2 separate regions of the Homo sapiens genome follow, and region 1 is linked to region 2. Evidence: fine-mapped QTL for protein levels in blood plasma. A gene starts in region 2. The other region holds a variant in brackets. All regions are shown on one strand. Distances are from middle to middle.

Region 1 (2,920 bases), 30 kb after region 2:
CTTGAAAAAAAATTTTAGGGAGACTTTTAAGCATCTTACTTCATTATAAAGATCAGTTGCTTGACTTTGCATGAAGCAGATTGGGCCCTTCTAGGGCTGACAAGCCCGTGCAAGACCACCCGCTCCTCAGTGTTAGTAGCGTTCCCGTCTCCCAAAACCATGTTCTCCCTTGATGCTAATGGCCGGGAGCACAGGCAGGTGTGTCGTCTCACTATGGAGAATAATATTTGTGTCATTCTTTACAGAAGAAGGTAGCTTGCCAAACTGTCTCCATCTTTCCCGATTCAGTCTTTTGTTCAAGTAATTCACATTTTTAGATTTTTTATTGGTAATCTGAGACAAGAAGAAATTTAAAGTAATCTTCACTAAGCCATGAAAGCTCCCAACATTGTTCTCCATGAGAGATGCTGGCCTGCATTTATTCAAAAACAAAAGACCCCTCTGTTGCCAAAGCTCGGAGGGCTTTTCAGAAACGATATAGTTGTAAATTATAATTTTGAATATATAAAGCAAAAAAATGAAAAGTGAGAACTTCCAGGCTTTGGATTGTTGTAGGTGATAAATATAAAATGGGATTTCTGGGGGGCTGCTACTGAGATGAGGGGATGGCAGAAAACATGGAAGCAAGGTCTCTGGTCAGCCCAGGGTGCTGGGCTTGTCCCAACACCACGTAGGCAATAAGAGGACAGTACAGGGTGCCGTCTCTCTCCCTCTTCCTCTCTCTGTCTCTCTCTCTCTGTGTGTGTGTGTGTGTGTGTGTGTAACACTACCTTCCCAATTTTTACTGTCTATTTGTATTCAAAGATAAGGTCCTTATGAAAAATACACTGCTCTGATTCACTTTAAAACTTATTTCCATATTTATTATTTATTGTGGGAATAATAATATTCCCAATATTATTATTTATTATTTAAGTTATTATTATTAACTTCCCTCTGAGGTTATATATTGGTTACTCACAGGTGAAATCCAAAATATTCTACAAAAGGTAAATATTCCTTTGGTAACAAATGAAGAATGCCAGAAAAGATATCAAGATTATAAAATAACCCAACGGATGGTCTGTGCTGGCTATAAAGAAGGGGGAAAAGATGCTTGTAAGGTAACTCATGAGATTATGAAAAACACAATAGGCTGCTTGAGAAAATTCATTTCAAAATATATTTTCCAATAGCATAATTCAATCATAGTTTTTAAAAAAATTCAGAGACAAATGATCTGATAAATTGATAAGCAACTTTTAACAAATTGAATATACATAATATATATTTATATTATTTATGATATATGTCACAATCTATGCATGTGCTATTTAAGAGGGGCAAATATACATGCAATAATTGTGCTAGAATATAAAAACATTAGACTTCATCATTGGGATGATGATATCAAGATTTCTTTGTTAGATTTATTTCAGATAGAAAAGGGGATACGAAAAATGCAGGCACATGAGATACTTGGAGAACTTTAAGAAAGAGTGAGTGTGTGTGTGTGTGTGTGTGTGTGTGTGTGTGTGTCTGGCAAGCAAGGTCTTGCACACACACAGCACTTTGGGAGGCCAATGCAGGTGGATCACTTGAGCCTAGGAATTTGAGACCAGTCTGGGCAATGTGATGAAACCCATCTCTACAAAAAAATATGAAAGTATCTGTGTGTGTGTGTTGCTGTGTAGTGGACTACAGAACTTTAGAGGCAGTCACTTATTTGAATCCCATTG[T/C]CGTAACTTTCTACTATTTTATTTTTCCACTGTGACTCAGGGAGATTCAGGTGGTCCCTTAGTTTGCAAACACAATGGAATGTGGCGTTTGGTGGGCATCACCAGCTGGGGTGAAGGCTGTGCCCGCAGGGAGCAACCTGGTGTCTACACCAAAGTCGCTGAGTACATGGACTGGATTTTAGAGAAAACACAGAGCAGTGATGGAAAAGCTCAGATGCAGTCACCAGCATGAGAAGCAGTCCAGAGTCTAGGCAATTTTTACAACCTGAGTTCAAGTCAAATTCTGAGCCTGGGGGGTCCTCATCTGCAAAGCATGGAGAGTGGCATCTTCTTTGCATCCTAAGGACGAAAAACACAGTGCACTCAGAGCTGCTGAGGACAATGTCTGGCTGAAGCCCGCTTTCAGCACGCCGTAACCAGGGGCTGACAATGCGAGGTCGCAACTGAGATCTCCATGACTGTGTGTTGTGAAATAAAATGGTGAAAGATCACGATTAGCAAGTGTTTTCTTCTGGTTGTGAAACAGAACTGAAAGTAAGTGGTTGAGGTTCCAGCACAGTTCCTGGGATCCCTCTAATTGCACTGCTTCCTCTGGAACTCAGTATATCTCAAAGATGTAATTTCCTCTCCGTGCTGCACCTGGTCGGCCACTGAAACCCACTATTGCCTGCTTCACGTGTGGCAAAGAGCTAGCGGGCTTGGGTTTTGTTCTGCCGAGAGGAAGGGAGAACACCCACTTTTATAAGAAAGAGATGGGTTACCTGAACCCATGGGCACCTTTGCCTCTTGGCCTCCTAACTTTGCTACCAGGGCATGGCTAGGAGGGTCCAGGCTGCGCGTGCTGAGGAGCTCGAGGGGCTGCAGCATTGCACAGCCTTCATGGCAGGCAAGGAATCTGCTTTGCAAGGGGCATTAGCCCTGGAGGCTCAGTGGATATGGGCTATTGCAATAGTAATTCAAGGAGCATTTTTAGGCCTGGCGTGGTGGCTCACGCCTGTAATTCCAACAGTTTAGGAGATCAAGGCAGGTGGATCACTTGAGCATAGGAGTTCGAGACTAGCCTGGCCAATGTGACGAAACCCCATCTCCACAAAAATTAGCTGGGCATGGTGGTGCGCACCTGTAATCCCAGCTCCCCCAGAAGCTGAGGCAGGAGGACCGCTTGAGCCCGGGGATGTCGTGGCTGCAGTGAGCTGAGATGG
Region 2 (2,920 bases):
TTGGTGGTTTCTTGTTTCCCCGATTATTTGTGATCAGTGTGGCCTTGCACTGAAGTAGGCACCTATTTCAGTCTTTACATACTAGCTTCAGCAGAGAAAGCCATTCACTAGTCAGATTGACCAGAGATTGTTGGTGGGCTGTCTGTTGGGGTCTATGCACAGGATTTCTGCTGGAGTTCTAAGGTGGGAAGGGCTGGATTCTGGGTTCATTCACTGTGGTTGTCTGTATTCTGTGCACAAGGACTGGCTTGAAGCATGGATCCTTGGGGGCTGACTTGGCACTGAAATGAGCCTTAAGCCTGCGTCTGCAGGGGCCAGCCTAACATGGGGATCACCTGGCACCTGAGTTCATGGGGATAGGCCTGTTCCTGAGTTTATTCAGGCTGTCCTGGGAACAAGGTCCACTGGGGTGAGCCCAGCATCTGGGTCCACATGGCCCAGCATGGAGCCAAGATCTCTGGAGGCTGACCTGGTGCTGGATCTGCAGGGGATGGCCTGGATTCTAGGCCCATGGGTGCCAACTTGGAGCCTGGGGTTGCTGGGGCTAACGTGGAGGCTAGATAGAGTCTTGGGGGCCAGGCTAGAGCTGGAGCAGGCCTGAAGTCTAGGTTTTGTGTGGCCATCTTGGAGCCTGAAGCCCCAGGGGCTGACCTGGTCTGGGGTGAGCATGGGGCTGAGGCCACAGAGGCTGGTCTGGCCTGTGGCAGGCCTGAATCCTGGTGCTGGGGTTTACTGGAGTGGGCTTGGTGCTTGGGATCTGTGGTGAAGTTAGGTTCTATCTTAACTGTCCCTCCTCCATGCAAGAGGGCATCTCTCTCCATACTGTGCTGCCCAGGCTTGAAGGTGAGATGACACCGGTAATGTGAAATTGTCCTTCCTATACACTTCTATGTGTCTTTTCTTATTTCTGTGCTGCAACCAGGTGGCATAACCTCTCACCTGATTCCTTAGCTCTAGTGAAGTTATTTTCGTGCATGGATACTTGTTCGAATTGATGTTTCTGCAAGGGATGAGCGCTAGAAACTCCTGTTCTGACAAACTCCTATTCCTATTCTTGCTGACATCACTCCCTGAAATAGTTAATATACTTAACAGCTGAACACGGATAGGATGTTCATGGAATATGTTGACAGGACAAAAAGTTGAAACTGTTGGCAGAAACCCAAAGTCAATATTGAAGCCAAGCAAAATATTGCCTGCAGTGCCACATTAGAACAGCTTGAAGACCGTTCATTTTTAAGTGACAAGAGACTCACCTCCAAGAAGCAATTGTGTTTTCAGGTAGCAAATTTTTATTATTCTGATTGTTTCCAAATAAACTATAATTTTTAAGTATAATTTTTTACTTTATGAGAAAATTAATCATTTATATTCTAATTTCCTGAGTATGTAGAGAGTATAGATAATGTTCCTTTATGTAGAAATATTTAAATGTAAGATGATTTTAAATCAGAAAGAATATTTGATTGATTTAAAATTTTTAAATGGGCTTTAATATTTTCAGAGGTTTTCTTTACTTAGGGATTTTTGGACTGACATTATTGCCATTATTTATTAATTTTGTTTTTGCCCAAATCAAGAGGTTTCATAATTGTTTACTCTCTCTCTACCAATTCCCTTTCCAACATTACTAGCCACAGAGTTGGCCAATGAACAATAAACACAACAGTAGTCTGGAGGTCTCAATTTGTATCTTGGGAAGCATTATAAATTTTCCAACTCCCTAGACACAAATGTACCAAAAAAAAACCCTTGTTTTCTATACCAGTAATTGTGTGCTTTGTCTTGCAATTCAGACATTTACAAGAAAATCTAAATCACCTTAAATTAAGATTTATGTTAAATGTGGTCTAAAACCAGCAGAGTTATGTATTGTTTTCTTTTTTAGAATGATTTTATTCAAGCAAGCAACTTATTTCATTTCCTTGTTTGCTACAGTTTCCTGTGGTAAGTGAATTATCTATAAAACATGGAATTCAGGCTAAGACAGGAGTAGCCAAGCAAGTGGCACCACCCCTGGAGAAAGCTATTGAACATACAGCTTCGGGGGTGGAGATTGTCCCTGATGATTCAGGACACGTGTCTATTTAATGTTCCACAACAAGGACCACTTGTCAGGTATATTGCTGTAGACATATGTTGCAGACCAGAGGAAGGAGCTCAGAAGTAGGAATGTCTTGGGACTTGTGTTAACAAAAACTTCTGTTCGCAGATGACACTCTGCAAAGCAAAACTTGAAACAAAAAAAAATTAGTCCTCTATTTTTATTATCAACAGTAAAAAATTAAACTTTATCTGAAAATTCAAAAGAGTGCTAGGCATTTTATAGTGTCTGGGTCCAATCCAAGTATCTGTTAGGAACACCATACATAGTTTTACTCTGGACCGCTAGGGAACCATTTCAAAAATGAAAGTAACTGGTTTAAATTTAACTTAGCAAACCATGCATTTGGATAGTTCTAGGTGAATAGCTTTCAACACCAGATTTAGATCTCATTTCTCTATTAATTTCATTAATTTTTGGAGAATAAAAATGATTCTGGACATTTCATTAATCATTACAGAGGGAGTTTTCTCTGTGTCCCCACAAGGCATGATTCTGGGTCTATGGTGACTTAAGAGGGCCACACAACAATGAGTATTTAATTTTCCTCAGATGTATGGCTACAATAAACATCTATAGGTAAGGTTTACATTCATAAAGAGACCTTTTTTTTTCCAGGAAAAAAGACTTTTATTCCCCCTAAATCACAACTCCCCTGTGTCTGTCCCTCAACCCTGATTTCTCTTCTAAACCGTAATTTACAAACCCATGTGCAAACCCACTGAAAGGTGAGAAGGAGCATAAGCCAGAGACACTGGGAACCACAGCCAACTACAGGGGGTTTTTCATTTTTTTGTTTTGTTTTGTTTTTTGGCA

Which allele goes with the higher level. Alleles are on the strand shown, and positions count from the first base shown. The strength of an association depends on the size of the effect and on how common the allele is.
With allele T in place of C in region 1, the plasma level of the protein whose gene starts at base 1,201 in region 2 is higher (moderate association).

What was found. PIP is the posterior inclusion probability: the model's chance that the variant is causal. Protein levels are from antibody-based Olink assays in UK Biobank. Linkage for the fine-mapping came from a reference panel and not from the study's own genotypes, which makes the PIPs less certain.
Region 1: its variant is fine-mapped to the plasma level of the KLKB1 protein (UK Biobank, PIP 0.98).

Annotation. Positions count from the first base shown.
Region 1 is chr4:186,256,263-186,259,182 of GRCh38, forward strand. KLKB1 (kallikrein B1) reads left to right here. Exons shown (of 15, transcript NM_000892.5): 14 at 964-1,103; 15 at 1,759-2,209. The coding sequence ends at 1,950. Among named protein-coding and RNA genes, the nearest start is that of F11, 8.5 kb to the right of the region's middle. The variant T/C (reference allele first, on the strand shown) is at 1,719.
Region 2 is chr4:186,226,307-186,229,226 of GRCh38, forward strand. KLKB1 (kallikrein B1) reads left to right here and starts at 1,201. Exons shown (of 15, transcript NM_000892.5): 1 at 1,201-1,281; 2 at 1,889-1,947. The coding sequence starts at 1,890. RefSeq lists an enhancer at 1-378.